2 linked regions of the Homo sapiens genome follow. The protein of the gene in region 1 interacts with the protein of each later gene in a pairwise test. Each region holds a gene or a part of one and is shown in the gene's direction. Other genes may lie near its edges.

What was found. The genes of interacting proteins can lie anywhere in the genome.
Region 2: the proteins of KCTD21 (region 1) and RNF25 interact in binary tests that used the Homo sapiens proteins (3 or more experiments, as listed by UniProt).

Annotation. Positions count from the first base shown.
Region 1 is NC_000011.10:78,176,894-78,186,310, reverse strand, and holds part of KCTD21 (BTB/POZ domain-containing protein KCTD21), read left to right. Parts: intron 1-8,325; exon of another isoform or gene 8,326-9,180; coding exon of another isoform or gene 9,181-9,259; intron 9,260-9,417. UniProt on the Homo sapiens protein: Probable substrate-specific adapter of a BCR (BTB-CUL3-RBX1) E3 ubiquitin-protein ligase complex mediating the ubiquitination and subsequent proteasomal degradation of target proteins. Promotes the ubiquitination of HDAC1.
Region 2 is NC_000002.12:218,663,392-218,670,210, reverse strand, and holds the end of RNF25 (E3 ubiquitin-protein ligase RNF25), read left to right. Parts: intron 1-1,531; coding exon 1,532-1,606; intron 1,607-1,869; coding exon 1,870-1,972; intron 1,973-2,064; coding exon 2,065-2,132; intron 2,133-2,229; coding exon 2,230-2,299; intron 2,300-3,980; coding exon 3,981-4,052; intron 4,053-4,151; coding exon 4,152-4,295; intron 4,296-4,963; coding exon 4,964-5,056; intron 5,057-5,337; coding exon 5,338-5,472; intron 5,473-5,675; coding exon 5,676-6,254; 3' UTR 6,255-6,319; downstream 6,320-6,819. UniProt on the Homo sapiens protein: E3 ubiquitin-protein ligase that plays a key role in the RNF14-RNF25 translation quality control pathway, a pathway that takes place when a ribosome has stalled during translation, and which promotes ubiquitination and degradation of translation factors on stalled ribosomes.

The DNA of each region.
Region 1 (9,417 bases):
AGCCTGACCTCCCAGGCTCAAGCGATCCTCCTACCTCAGCCTGTGCAGCTGGGACTGCAAGCACGTGTTACCATGCCCAGCTAATTTTTTTTTTTCTCTATAGAAACGAGGTCTCATTATGTTGTCCAGGTGGTCTCAAACTCCTGAACTCAAGCGATCCTCCCACCTGGGCCTTCCAAGTGCTGGGATTACAGGCATGAGCCACTGAGCCTGGCCTGTCTCCAGTTCTTTCTGCCCATCCTTGACATTTCTGAGGCCCAGGAGTGGCCTCTCTTTGTCAACATTCACAGTGAGTCATGACAGGAGTTTCTTTCCTGCCGAGTTACAGAGATTCTGGGTTCATGATGAGGCAGGAAAAACAAGGCCTGAACAGCCATCTTCTTCCAGGCAGAATCACAGCACAGAAGATAGGCAGACCTGGCCGGGCGCGGTGGCTCACGCCTGTAATCCCAGCACTTTGGGAGGCTGAGGTGGGTGGATCATTTGAGGTCAGGAGCTTGAGACCAGCCTGGCCAACGTGGTGAAACCCCGTCTCTACTAAAAATACAAAAATTAGCCGGGCATGGTGGCACGCACCTGAAATCCCAGCTACTCAGGAGGCTGAGGCAGGAGAATCACTTGAACCTGGGAGGCAGAGGTCGCAGTGAGCCAGGATCACGCCACTGCACTCCAAACTGGGTGACAGAGCGAGACTCTATCTCAAAAAAAAAAAATAGGCCTAGTGGTGTGGTTTCTGTGGGTGGTGGCTCTATCCAGACTGCCCACCCAGGCTTAGATTCTAACTCCTCCACCACTTAGCCCTGGTTGGCATCCTCACCCTTCAAAATTCAGAAACACTTGGGAAGGAAAATTATGAGCTTTTCACACTTCTAAGTAGTAGTAGTAAATCTGTAACTTACTAAATCTGGCGACTTATTGGGGTCTGGCACAATGACTGTAACTTTACATCTATTGGCCCTATGAAGAAGTGTTCTTCCCCCCTCTTTTAAAATACAAATATTTTTAAAATTTTCAAGCTTACATAAAAGCTTAAAGTACAACCCTTAACCTAGATACGCCAAATCACAATTTGCCAATTGTGCTTTTACACAAACACACACTTTTTTGGCCCAATTATTTAAAAGTAAGTTACAGATATGTTGATTGACGTTTGACCCCTAAATTCTTCAACATGTATCCCCTAATAAGGGCGTTCTACTACATAGCCATAATACATTATATGTAATAAGCAAGAAGTCAGTATTACCCAATGTAATAGTTATTCAAAATTTTCTGCCAGGTGCAATGGGTCATGTCTATAACCCCAGCACTTTGGGAAGCAAAGGCAGACAGATTGCTTGAGCCCAGGAGTTCAAGGCCAGCCTGGGCAACATAGTGAAACCCCATCTCTACAAAAACTACAAAATTTAGCATGGTGTGGTAGCGTGCACCTGTAGTCCCAGCTACTTGGGAAAATCACCTGAGCCTGGGGATGTCAAGGCTGCAGTGAACCATGATCGCGCCACTGCACTCCAGCCTGGGCGACAGAGTGAGACCCTGTCTCAAGAAAAAAAAAATTCTAATTGCCCAAAAATACCTTATATAGTTTCTGGTTTTTAAAATCAGATCCAGTCAAGATGTACATATTGCATCCTATTATATCTCTTTTATCAACTCATTTAATCTAAATAGAGCCCCTTGGCATGGTAGCTCATGTCTGTAATCCCAACATTTTGGGAGGCTGAGGTGGGCAGATCACTTGAGGTCAGGAGTTCGAGACCAGCCTGGCCAACATGGTGATACCCCATCTCAAGTAAAAATACAAAAATTAGCCGGACATGGTGGTGTGTGCCTATACTCCCAGCTACTCAGGAGGCTGAGGCAAGAGAATTGCTTGAACTCAGGAGGTGGAGGTTGCAGTGAGCCGAGATTGTGCCACTGCACTCCAGCCTGGGCAACAGAGTGTGACTCTATCTCAAATAAATAAATAAATAAATAAATAGAGCTTCTCCACCTATTTAAATATGTTTGATTGGTTTATCAATGATTAGATTGGGGTTAGATTTAAGTTTTTGGCAATGTGTGTACTTACTGCATGTCAGGAGGATATGATGTCAGGGTCTTACTATCCATGAATGCTAAATTTGATTATTAAGGTCATGGCAACCTGATCTCTCTATCGTAAAGGTAAATTTTTCTCTCTTACAATTAATAAGTAATCTGTGAAGTGATTCTCTGAGTCTGTTATAATTATGTGTTCCTGATAACCTTTCACACCACATCCTTGGATGATCCTTGCTTGAATTACAACACTGAGGGTTGCAAATTGGTAATTTTCTAATTCTGCCATTCCTTCTGTGTTTATTAGTGTTCTTTTTTATAGAATTAATTTTTCCTGGCCGGGTGCGGTGGCTCACGCCTGTAATCCCAGCACTTTGGGAGGCCGAGGCGGGCGGATCACGAGGTCAGGAGATCGAGACCATCCTGGCTAACAAGGTGAAACCCTGTCTCCACTAAAAATACAAAAAATTAGCCGAGCGAGGTGGCGGGCGCCTGTAGTCTCAGCTACTCGGGAGGCTGAGGCAGGAGAATGGCGTGAACCCTGGGAGGCGGAGGTTGCAGTGAGCCGAAATCACACCACTGCACTCCAGCCTGGGCGACAGTGAGACTCCGTCTCAAAAAAAAAAAAAAAGAATTAATTTTTCCTGTCTCTATCTTTCTCACTCCCTTCTTCTCACCCTCTTTTTTCTTTTGGGAATAACATTATGGACTCTTGTTTTTTGTTTGTTTGTTTTTGAGATGGAGTCTCACTCTGTTGCCCTGGCTGGTGTGCAGTGGCACGATCTTGGCTCACTGCAACCTCCACTTCCCAGATTCAAGCGATTCTCCTGCCTCAGCCTCCCAAGTAGCTGGAATAACAGGCGCACGCCACCCCGCCCAGCTATTTTTTGTATTTTTAGTAGAGATGGGGTTTTGCCATGTTAGCCAGGCTGGTCTTGAACTCCAGACCTCAGGTGATCCGCCCGCCTCGGCCTCCCAAAGTGCTGAGATTACAGGCATGAACTACCGCACCCAGCCTGGACTCTTGTTTTGTTGTTGTTGTTTTTTAATTCACTGGGCTATATGAACTCACCTTGAACTTTTCCTGTGAAAGTCCAGGAATCATCAGTTTCTCCAGGAAGCCCTGGTTTCTTTTAGAAGAGATGATGACATTCAGAAACAAAGATCCAGGGCTAGGTGTGTTTATTGCTACTGGGTGTCATTTCTAGGCTCTGTGAGTGAGCAGAGCTAGGAAATGATGGATAGGTGATTGATAGATAGATGATAGATGGACAATTTTCATTACTCAGTACATTTATTGTTACAACAGCTAGTCCCCACTGACAGGATTGCATGGTAAGTCATTTCATTATGGAAGTAATGCTCATTATGGAAGTGGACAGTAATGTAGGAAAAAAGGAAATTGCACAGAAAAGAGCTCTTGCCTACTCCAGGTCGCCATGAGTATACAGACTGTTGGCTAGGACCTCTGTGGCTGGGTTCAGCTTCCTGCCGAAGACGTCTAAAGGACTGGTTCTCTGAAGGGTGTCCAAACCAGAACTTCCCAGAGGCCATGACTCTGAGGTCAAGAATCCACATGAAGCCCTGGGCAAGGGATTCACGCTCTTTGGGTCTGCTTTAGGTTGTCTTTGAAACAAAGACAATGTAATCGGTCCTGCCTGGGTCCCAGAGTTGTAAGGATCAATATATTTATCAATATGTTTATTTTTAAACATTGCTAGTTGTGTCTCTTCACATTTATTACCAAATTCCTTCTCTTCTCATTGTTTTAAAACCACAGAGGGAAATGTCATTGCTTTATAATCTAGTTTAATACATTGCGCTAAGATGTCTTATTCAAATACTCTTTCAGGTTATCAGTCATCAGTGCTTCCAGATTAAAATTTTAATTATTTAAATCTTTTTTGAAAAATACTATTGGGATTTGGATTAGGATAGCATAACAACTATAATTAATTTTGAGGGGGGGGGGGTGCTTTGGGATAAGGCCTGGCTCTGTCACCCAAACCAGAGTGCAGTGGCACAGTCTTGGCTCACTGCAACCTCCACCTACTGGGACAAAACCAATTATTAAAATAGAAGAAGTTCCTATAGCTATTATCACTTGGGAAATTACACAGTTTTTAGCCCTGGCCAACAGCTGGGGACAAATCTAAAATGTATATTGCTTATTATATCACAGTATCACACAACCCCTCCCCTGAGTGCAAGGCGGTGACTATGCAGACGTGAGACATGCAGTTGCTCTCAGCTCACAAACTAGGCAGTGGTTTCCAAAAAAAATTGTTTTGTCAGCCACAGTATGAAGATACCATGATCCAGTTCATAGACACACAACTGAAACAAAAGTTTCACAACAATATATAATTGGTTACAACCCACTTAACTGTATTGATGTCATGACTTGCCAATAGGTCACAACCTTCATTTTTTTTCCTGTTTATGGAGGTAAAACTTAAGTATGGTAAAATTTACACTTTTTTTTTAATTGAGACAGGGGTCTTACTATGTTTTCCAGGCTGGTCTTGAACTCCTGGGCTCAAGTGACCCTCCTGCCTCGGCCTCTCAAAGTACTGGGATTATAGGCATGAACCACCACAGCTGGCCACAATTCACCCTTTTAGATGTGTATGGTTACATGAATTTTGACAGTCTTTATAAACACATTTGACCACCACCACATCATATTACTTTTGTGCCAACCTAATAGAATATTCCCATCACTCCAAAATATGCCTTGTGTTTCTTTGTAACCAGTCTTTTCCCTCCAACCCAGCCCCAAGAATTCACTTAATCTGATTTCTGTCTTTATAGTTTTGCCTTTGCCAGAACGTTATACAGATAGAGTCATGTACCATGTAACCTTCTGAGGCTGGCTTCTTTCACTTGACGTAATGCTTTTGAAATTCATGTATGTGGTAATGTCTTTTAGTAGTTCCTATATATTGCTGAGTCATATTCTATTGTATGGATGTACTGCAATTTATCTGTTTACAATTAGTTGTTTCTGAGTTTGGGCAATTATGAATAAGCTGCCATAAACATTCACATATGAGTCTTTGCATGGACATATGTCTCCATTTCTCCGGCATAAATACCTAGGAGTAGGGTCATTGGGTCACGTGATAATTGTATGCTGTATTAGTCCATTCTCACACTGCTAATAACAACATACCCCAGACTGGCTAATTTACAAAGGAAAGAGGTTTAATTGACTCACGGTTCCACAGGACTAGGGAGGCCTCAGGAAACTTAAAATAATGGTGGAAGGGGAAGCAAACATGTCTTTCTTCACATGGCAGCAGCAAGGAGAAGTGCCAAGCGAAGGGGGAAACCCCTTATAAAACCATCAGATCTCTTAAGAACTCACTATCACAAGAACAGCATGAGGAAAACCGCCCCAATGATTCAATCATCTCCACCTAGTCCTGCCCTTGACACATGGGGATTATTACAATTCAAGGTGAGATTTGGGTGGGGACACAGAGCCAAACCATACCATATGTCAAACTATTTTCAACAGCGGTTACCATTTGTCAGCAGTGTATGAGGTTTCCATTGTTCTATGTACTCACCTTCAATTGGCATTGTCAGTTTTTATATGAGCCACTAATAGGTATATAGTAGCATATAATTGTGGTTTCAATTTTCATACTCTCATGACTGATGATATTGACCATCTTTTCATGTGATTGTCAGTCATCTGCATATCTTCTTTGCTGGAGTATTTGTTAGATCTTTTGTCTAGTTGTTTTGTTTTTGTTTTTGTTTAAGTAGAGATAGGGTTTCACCATGTCGGCCAGGCTGTTCTTGAACTCCTGGCCTCAAGTGATCTGCCCGCCTCAGCCTCCCAAAGTGCTGGGATTACAGGCATGTGCCACTGCACCCAGCTTTATGTGTTTTTTAATTGGGTTATTTTCTTACTGAGTTTTGAGAGTTCTTTATATATTCTGGTTAACAATCCTTTATCAGATAGGTGTTTTGCAAATATTTTCTCCATCTGTGTCTTATTCTTTCATTTTCTTAACAGTGTCTTTTGAAGAGCAGAAGTTTTTTACGTGGATGAAGTCTAGTTTATTGATGTTTTTAATGGTTTGTCCCTTTTAGGTCCTATCCAAGAAATCTTTGCCTAATCCACAGTTGCAAAGATTTTCTCCTAGAAGTTGTGTAGTTTTAGATTTTATATTTAGGTCTATGATATGTTCTGAGTTTATTTTTCATAAACAGCATAAGAGATGGACCAAGGTTCTTTTTTTCCCCATATGGATGTCCACTGATCTGCATTTTGAGATAGCCAGGGAAGAGGGCCATGTGCAAAGGAGATCGCTGCAGGTGGAATGCTGGGTGCTGCCAGAGGGGGTTGTGCAAGGCACCAGGAAGCCCTGAGAGGAGAGCTGTTAACCTAGTGGAGATCTGGGGACAGTAGTACAGAGGTGATGACTCATAGGCTGGGCCTGAAAGGTAGACAGCAGAGAGGGTAGAGAAGGTAGACAGGGGTGGTCTAGGGACAGCAAAGGCAGGGCAGGTGTCAGCATGAAGGAGACTGACTCAGTGGCGTCTGGCGTGCGTGGAGGGCAGGGTTAGACATGAGAGGGAAAGAGGAAGGTGGTTGGGCAGGGACGGTACTTCAGGAAGGTCAGTCTGCAGACCAGAAAGGAAGGTGGACAGAAGGCAGGGAGCCGAGTGAGGATGTAGGGGTGCAGGGGGCAGGGATGAGGCCTGAGCTCTGGGAGTAGCTATAGGGATGGGTTCAAGGAGATAGTCAAGACAAACTGTAGGGCTGAAGAGTCGGGGCTGCTTCCCTCAGGCAGTTGGGTGGCTCAGAAGAGTTCACAGCAGAGTTAGGGGCAGAGGAAGGCACAGGTGAGGCTTCTGGTACCTGTGTTACTGGTGGAGGGTCTTGACTAGGAATTTTCCAGGTCCTTGGCGTTTTGAACAAAGTAGCAGAGGGGCAGACGTGGTAATCCCCACACTTTGGGAGGCCTGGATGGGCAGATCACTTGAGGTCAGTCCAAGACCGGCCTGGCCAACGTGGTGAAACCCGTCTCTACTAAAAAAAAAAAAAGTAAAAATAAAAAGAGTAGCAGGGGAATGAAATGCAGGAATGAAGCAGTGAAAGCAGGAATTAAAGTGAGAAAGCACTCCTCAGGGTGGGAGTGGGCCGGAGCAAGGAACTCAAAGGCCCAGTTACAAAGTTCTCTGGGCTTTAGGTACCCCATTTGAGGTTCTTATCAGCTACTCCTTATCTGGACGAAGGATTTAGTCTGTGGCTAATTAAAGGCTGAGGTGAATGGGCACCCTATGCAGATAAAGGGATGGTCCCAATCCAAGGCCCCCCTCCCTTTCCACCTGAGACATGGTGGAGTGGGAGGGTTGCAAAGAGGAGCGTTTGATCCTTTGTCACCCAGCTGGGGCGATGGCGTTTTTCCTCTTGGTTCAGCTTTAGGAATTTGGTGTTAATTGGTCTTAGGGTCCCTGCCCCCAGACCCAGGATTTTCCTTCTGATCCAGCTTTGGGAAGTCAACAGAATTGGCCTCAGATTTTTTGCCCCAGACCTTGGTGTTTTCTCTTTTATGAAGTTAGCACAAATTGGCCTTAAGTTCCTTGTCTCCAAACCTTGTTCTCCTGCCTCACTTGCAGAATATCCAAGTGGAGGTGGCCAGGAGGCATCTGGGAACACATAGGGGACTGAGGCTCAGTGGTGTTAGTTCATTACTACCTGACTGCAAACCTCCGCCGACTCATGAAACTCCCCTCGTGTCATGTCATTTTGCCTTTTGTAGCAGGGCCGTGGATTTGTGATGATGGACACTGTGGCCCTGTGGCTAGAAAATAGGGGCTTAGACCAGGCACGGTGGCTCACGCCTGTAATCCCAGCACTTTGGGAGGCCGAGGCGGGCAGATCACAAAGTCAAGAGATCGAGACCATCCTGGCCAACATGGTGAAATCCCATCTCTACTAAAAATACAAAAATAAATTAGCCGGGCCTGGTGGCGTGCACCTGTAATTGCAGCTACCCGGGAGGCTGAGGCAGGAGTGTCGCTTGAATCTGGGAGGCAGAGGTTGCAGTGAGCTGAGATTGCGTCACTGCACTCTAGCCTGGCGACAGAGCGAGACTCCATCTCAAAAAAAAAAAAAGAAAAGAAGGGCTTAGAGGACTGAGCTCTGTGACTGGATAGGTAAGGGGAGATCACCACAGAGAGCACCCTAGACTCGGAGCAGGAGACCTGCCTGCTAGCCAGCCTCTGCCCTGACTGCCTGTGCAACTGTGCTGCTCTCCCCAGACAAATGACCGGGAGCCATGACGTCATCGGGGGCGCAGGAAAGCAGGTGCTCTGCTGCTTTTGCAAGCAGAGAAATAAGAGTTTGGGCACCTACCCAGGGGTCCCAGGGAATGCCCTGTGGCTCCTGACCTCCCCCGCCTGTAATGCTCTGAGCACTTCAGCAGTAATGCATGGAAGAGATAAGGGTCTGTGACCCATGGAACTGTCCAAGTCCTCTCTGACACCCGCTTCTTTTCCTGCCGTGAAGGTAAGCCACTTTATAGATCCTAGGCCTGAAACCCAATGTTGGGAGGGAGTGTTTGTTTTCAAGAAGAAAGAGAGACTGAAACTAGAACATGCACATTTCTATCCAGAAGAAAACAGTTGGAGTAGACTAGAGTCCTACAAAGAGGGCAACAGGGAAGAAGATTCTGGACTGAGTAAAGGGGACCCACTCCTGGGTCCACCTCCTGCCTGGGCCCTCTGGAGAGAGAATTGGCCAGATTCAGCCCTGAGTCACAGCACCCTCCCCAGTTGCTGCCTCACAGCCATCTCCACACCAGCAGCCATGCCCCCAGCGGCAGCTCGCCCACACCTCTGTGGGACCTCCCCACCGTCTCGCAGCCCATCTGCTCCAGGCTTCTACTGACGATTTCGTATTTCACATGGACTCATTTCTCCTCAGACACTCCAGATGGGGAATGCCTTTCTGCAATATCAAAGTGCCCCATTAGACTGGGGAGGAATCATGAGGGGACATACCCCTGCCCCTGCCACAGAGTCGAGCATGGCAGCTGAATATCTCTCACACTGGCATGGCCCCCATCCTCTGGAGAAAGGAGGCCTCAGTGCAGTCAGCCTCTTCAGGAGGCAGAAATGTTGAGAAGTTCTCGCCACCCCTGCTGGGTGACTTTGGGGAGGTGTCTCCTCAGACCTCTGTTTCTCCATCTGGACGGTAAGCATGCTTGAAAGGTTGGGTTTTTGTTTGTTTTTTGAGACCGGATCTCCCTCTGTCTGCCAGGCTGGAGTTCTGTGGCGTAATCACGGCTCACTGCAGCCTCAACCTCCCAGACTCAAGCGATCCTCCCACCTCAGCCTCCCAAGTAGTTGGGA
Region 2 (6,819 bases), on another chromosome or scaffold:
TTTTTTTTTTAAGAGACAGAGTCTTACTTTGTCACCCAGGCTGGAGTACAGTGGCAAGATCATGGCTCACTACAGCCTCGACCTCCTGGGCTCCCGTGATTCTTCTGCCTCAGTCTCCCAAGTAGCTGGGACCACCGTGTCCAGTTAATTTTTTATTTTTTGTAGAGATAGTGTCTCGCTTTGTTGCCCAGGCTGGTCTCGAACTCCTGGCCTCAAGTGATCCTCCCACCTCAGCCTCCCAAAGCGCTGGGATAACTTACAGTTTACCTGTTCAGGGGAACTTTTAAGATTCAGGGGAGACACCTTGAGCCATGGAGACAGCAACAATGAGTGCAGCAGCCTGTAGTACTGTGAGACTCCCACTCCCATGTCAGCCAGAACTACACTGTTATCTGTGAGGTGTGAAGCTTTATATTTTATATTTTGAAGTTTCTGCCTAAGACTTAACAACACTGACATAGGTCGTGCTGGGGCAGCCTTACTCTTAGAATGAAGAGGGAGCAGTGTGAGAAAGCAAAGTGTGCATTTTTCCATGTATCACTTGGTAGAGCTGTAGACACAAACTGATCACTCAGCTTCAATTTCATTACAACTGCTGTTTCTATGCTTAAGTATGTGTGTCCCTTGATTTACATCAGAACCATGGATCCTAACCTCAACAGGCTGATCTAGATCAACCAGACAGCCAGGTCATAAATACATCCAGAGTACTCTATTACCTCCTTCCTTCCCTCTTTCCTTCTAAGGGAGAAGGTTATATACAGACAGGAAAAAAAGAGGACGTAGACTAGCTACGATAGCCCAGATACTATTAGGTACTTTATGTAAACAAATCACCTTTTATCCTCACAATAACCCTAGAGAGTAGGTGTTATTATCTATATGTGACAGACAGGATAACTTAAGCTTACAGAGAGGTCACGTCCCAGATTGCATAGCTTGTAAGTGATTGGTACCTGTTAACTAACTCCGAGGCTGCTGGCTCTTCCATTACAACACAGCCTTTATACCACCCTAAATATGTTGTGTTGAGGTTGCTATCTCCTTTAAGAAGGCTTAGGGTGACTGGTGTTAAAACTGTATGTAGACAGTAGCCAAGGCACTGGGATCCACACTGGACAGTGACGTAGGGAAAGGTTGGAGTAATATTGGTAACGTTAATGCTAATGAATGAGTGCCATATCTCTAGACCAGAGATTCAGCCACTAAGGGGAATGAAACTTAAACAGGGAGTCAGGAAACCTGGCTCTGGGCCTAGTTCTACCTATGTTAAGCCTTGGTTAGTCATTTTACTTCTCTAGAATCCACTTCTTCATCTGTTGGCAGAAATGATGCCTAAAATTCTGATTTCCATGCCTTCTATTTGGCCAGTTGACAACTTAAGGTAACATATTCCTTGTTTTTAAGGAGTTTAGCAGGAGAATGCATTCTGGTAGATTGCCATTTTTCTACAAAGCCTGCCTTTATTGGCCTTAGCAGGCTTCCACAGGGAGAGCTGTAATGGTAAGTTAGTCTACTCCTGTCTCTCTAGGGTCCTTCCCTCTGAAGTTGAAGTATTGGAGTCCATCTATCTAGATGAACTACAGGTGATTAAAGGAAATGGCAGGTATGTATTCAACCAGTGGTGGGCAGGAGTCCCCCTAGTAATGAGGAGAGGTTCTATGCTGAATTTGGGTCTTAAGACATTGTGAGCCTTGATTCAGAGATAATATTTCTCTTGTGTAGACAAAAGCTATTCCTTTAATCCTACCCCAAAAGAAAGAGTCCAATGTGTACTTCCTTTGCCCACTTCACTGTCTCAGCCCCATCCTCCCCAGCCCCCAAGCCCCTACCCAGTCACATCTGCGTGTCCACTTGATCCACCTGCAGAACTTCACCATGGGAGATCTACATCACTTTGCATCCTGCCACTGCAGAGGACCAGGATTCACAGTATGTCTGCTTCACTCTGGTGCTTCAGGTCCCAGCAGAGGTGAAGCCCCTACTGTGTGGCAGCAAAGGGAGGAAGGGGAGAGTCCCTGGGGTGGACCGCTTCAGCAGTAACTTGTTATTTGCCCCCACTAGTATCCCCATGAGGTGCCACAGATCTCTATCCGAAATCCCCGAGGACTTTCAGATGAACAGATCCACACGTAAGTTGAACCTGTCAGAACAGGGAAAACTCAGCTACAGCTTTGCCCGGTGACAGAAATGGGCAGGTCTAATATTTGGTTTGCCCTCTTCCTCCAGGATCTTACAGGTGCTGGGCCACGTGGCCAAGGCTGGGCTGGGCACTGCCATGCTGTATGAACTCATTGAGGTAAGAGGTGCGCTAGTCTGAGATATGTTCTTTCCTTCAAGCTAGAGCAGTTTCTAGCTGTAAAAGGGAAACCATGGGCCTAGAATCTTAAACGGATCTGGAGTCATTAGGTAAGGCCTAAATTAATCCAGAGAAATGAGACTCTTCTATTTGAAAAACTTCCCAAAAGACAGTTCAGTAGCTTCTCCAAGTTGCCTATGCCAGCATCTTGACAGAAAATGACTTTTCCTCTTCACCTTGAATTTTTCTTGCATCAGTTTCAGTATATGTCTTGTTCTCTTGGCACTGGCAACTGAAAGTGGCAAAAGATACGCATCTTGCTTGGGGGCGTCTTAGCCATAAATGAACATTTGAAGGCTAGACTGCCATTGGACCTGACTAGAAAAAGTCATGGTTGGCCAGGCACGGTGGCGGGCATTTGTAATCCCAGTTACTTGGGAGGCTGAGGAAGGAGAATCGCTTGAACCCGGGAGGCGGAGATTGCAGGGAGCCAAGATCATGCACTGCACTCCAGCCTGGGCAACAGAGTGAGACTCCATCTCAAAAAAAAAAAAAAGAAAAAGTCATGGTTCCTTTACTGAAAGAGCTTATACACTGCTTGATGAAACAACCCACATGAAGCAACACCTGAAGCTCCAATATACACAGAAAACTTTTATTGTTTGAGATTAAAAATATAAAATTAAGTACAGTTTTATTTTCCCCTAGTTTGTTTATTTATTAATTTTAATTTTTTTTTTTTTTTTGAGACAGTCTTAGTCTGTCACCCAGGCTGGAGTGCAGTGGTGTGATCTCAGCTCACTGCAACCTCCGCCTCCCAGGTTCAAGTGATTCTCCTGCCTCAGCCTCCCAGATAGCTAGGATCACAGGCATGTGCCACCACACCCAGCTAATTTTATATTTTTAGTAGAGATGGGGTTTCTCCATGTTGGCCAGGCTGGTCTTGAACTCCTGACCTCAGGTTATCCACCTGCCTCAGCCTCCCAAAGTGCTGGGATTATAGGCATGAGCCACCACGCCCAGCCTCTCTTAGTTTAAATTTTTAAGAAAAATGTTCAGAATAGAATGAAGGTGGGTGGCTGAGAGTCAAAGAGAGTGGGTTTGATAGGCCACCGTAGCAGTCCTAGGTCAGGCCTCCACAATGCAGCCTTGGACTTTGTGGAATTCCAGAGTACACTATTAGCTATTCAAATAACAATTCAAATGCATAGTTCACAGCCCAACTCAATGCCTTGTGAATTCTCTGTCCATTTGGGTTGTCCATGCCTTGTCATGCTTTCTGAAAGCTGACTTAGAACAAACACATTGCCCCATGGGGGAGTGATATTGAAGGGGGCTAATCAAGAAAGGCCTCCCAGAAGATAAATTTTAATTGAACATTTTTTTTCTCAAGGTGTATTATTTTCATCTCCAAGATATATTAAAAGTGACTTAATGAAAGGAAAAACAATTAGGTTGAATTTTGAAACCAGGAAGATCAAATTTTGGGGGAGGGGCAGAGATGTGGAGAAGGATTGATTCCCAGCAGAGGGAGCGTCACCAAGCCAGAAATGCATAAACACAAGGTAACAAACTGGCCTGCTAGGAGCCAAGTCTAGCCAGTCACTCCTAGGAGTAGTAGACAGGCCTTGCTCACCGTTCTTCCCCCTACCCCCGTTTAATCAGTGTCTTCTCTCCTCAGAAAGGGAAGGAAATTCTCACAGATAACAACATCCCTCATGGCCAGTGTGTCATCTGCCTCTATGGTTTCCAGGTGGGTTTCTCTCTTGGGACCTGGCATTCTGTTTGGGACCAGCAGATGAGGGCTGTGAGAGAGCTCTGACTTAGTGCCCTACATCTGCCTTCCCTCTAGGAGAAGGAGGCCTTTACCAAAACACCCTGTTACCACTACTTCCACTGCCACTGCCTTGCTCGGTACATCCAGCACATGGAGCAAGAGCTGAAGGCACAAGGACAGGAGCAGGAACAGGAACGGCAGCATGCTACAACCAAACAGGTAGACCTCACTGCACCTGCACACTCATCTGACACCCTTAGGCACAGCCTTTCACAAACTTTTCCATCTCTCCACTCCAGTGGCTCTTCACTTTTTCAGGGTCATAGATACCCTTGAGATTAATGAACTCTTACCTCTGTCCAGAATAAAGGGCATCCTTTTTTTTTTTTTTTGAGATGGAGTCTCACTCTGCCACCCAGGCTGGAGTGCAGTAGCACAATCTTGGCTCACTGCAACCTCCGCCTCCTGGGTTCAAGCAATCCTTCTGCCTCAGCCTCCCGAGTAGCTGGGATTATAGGTGCGAGCCACCACGCCCAGCTGATTTTTGTATTTTCAGTAGAGACGGGGTTTCACCATGTTGGCCAGGCTGGTCTCAAACTCATGACCTCAAGTGATCCCGCCCGCCTCGGCCTCCCAAAGTGCTGGGATTACAGGCGCGAGCCACCGTGCCTGGCCAGGGCATCCTTATATACACTTACATATTGCATGCAGTTTCGGGGGGTTCCCAGATCTCTAGTTAGACAACCCGTGCTCTGTCCCAACTCACTGCTGAACCGGTGTCCCTGTGCCCTTTAGTCCCAGCCCTCTGCAGATTAGGTTGGCTGATGGGTCAGCACCAGGGGGCATCCTGGGCTGTGACACAGGCATATGATTTTTCTCTTTTTTAGAAGGCAGTCGGTGTGCAGTGTCCAGTGTGCAGAGAGCCCCTCGTGTATGATCTTGCCTCACTGAAAGCAGCCCCTGAACCCCAACAGCCCATGGTAAGGAGACTTTTTTCCAATCTGAGCCAGGAGTAATGGTATTTTCTAAAGAGTAAGGAATGGCATCTTGTCTGTGTCAAATGGGATCTCTGAAATTGGGCTTGAACTGCCTAGGACCTCTCTGCAAAGCCACATCCCCCACTGGCGGGAGCCTAAGACTCTGGGAGCCCAGACCTGAGGGGCAAAACCAGTGCAGATCTCCTGAGGCAGCCTGGGAGGAGTAGAGGTTTGAGTCAGCCTTCTGCTGTTCATTATTTCCTCTCTGCCATTCTTCCTTCCAGGAGCTGTACCAGCCCAGTGCAGAGAGCTTGCGCCAGCAAGAAGAACGCAAGCGGCTCTACCAGAGGCAGCAGGAGCGGGGGGGAATCATTGACCTTGAGGCTGAGCGAAACCGATACTTCATCAGCCTTCAGCAGGTGAGGGAAGGGCTTCCCAGTTGTCCTGTAATGCCACCAACCTTTCTACAAACCCCAATCAGCCATGGCCCCAGAGTGAGCTTTGTTCTAACCAGGAAGATGATAGGCTGATCGTGGTCAGCCCAGATAGTAGGAGAGGGGCCTGTAGTTCCCCACCTTGAGGAACTGCATCTCCCTCACTGCATCTTGTCACTTATTTCTAGCCTCCTGCCCCTGCGGAACCTGAGTCAGCTGTAGATGTCTCCAAAGGATCCCAACCACCCAGCACCCTTGCAGCAGAACTATCCACCTCACCAGCCGTCCAATCCACTTTGCCACCTCCTCTGCCTGTGGCGACCCAGCACATATGTGAGAAGATTCCAGGGACCAGGTCAAATCAGCAAAGGTTGGGCGAAACCCAGAAAGCTATGCTAGATCCCCCCAAGCCCAGTCGAGGTCCCTGGCGACAGCCCGAACGGAGGCACCCAAAGGGAGGGGAGTGCCACGCCCCTAAAGGTACCCGTGACACCCAGGAACTGCCACCTCCTGAGGGGCCCCTCAAGGAGCCCATGGACCTAAAGCCAGAACCCCATAGCCAAGGAGTTGAAGGTCCTCCACAAGAGAAGGGGCCTGGCAGCTGGCAGGGGCCCCCACCCCGCAGGACTCGGGACTGTGTTCGCTGGGAGCGCTCTAAAGGCCGGACACCCGGTTCTTCCTACCCTCGCCTGCCTCGGGGCCAGGGAGCATACCGGCCTGGTACTCGGAGGGAGTCCCTGGGCCTGGAATCTAAGGATGGTTCCTAGCAGGACTTGGTGGGGGGAACAGGGAATTGGGGATGGGAGGGAGGCAATAAAGATATTTGGCCTTCTTTGGCTTTCTTTGCTTAGCAGCGCCTAGCCTGTGAGGAATGGCTCTTTTTCTCAATTCCTAATAAGATTGGGGTGTGGCAGAGCAGCCCCCAACTTTGCTCTGAAGTCTGTTCTCCGAAGAGCTGGGTAAAGAGGGTCTGACATCTCATCAGCTAGTATAGTGAGTTTCAGGGAAAACTAGTGGGATGTCAGCATGTAAGCAGAGTCCTTAGGACCCACCGTTAACAACTCATTGTGTACACACCCATGCCTGTCCATTATTTATATACATAGAATGCCTTTAGGTAGAGGAATTTAGTTTCCTGTTTTGTGTCTCATCTCTTTATCTTAGGCTATGCCCCATCATTTGTATATGTGGTTGCCTGACTGACCCCTGTAGGCACCTGTGATTGCAGCCCGTCTTACTCAAGTACCAATCCAGTGATGAAGGGAGATGAGAGAGCAGAGTAGTGTGGCAGATGTTTATTGAGCTAGAGGAGGAGAGCTGAGCTGAGCCCAG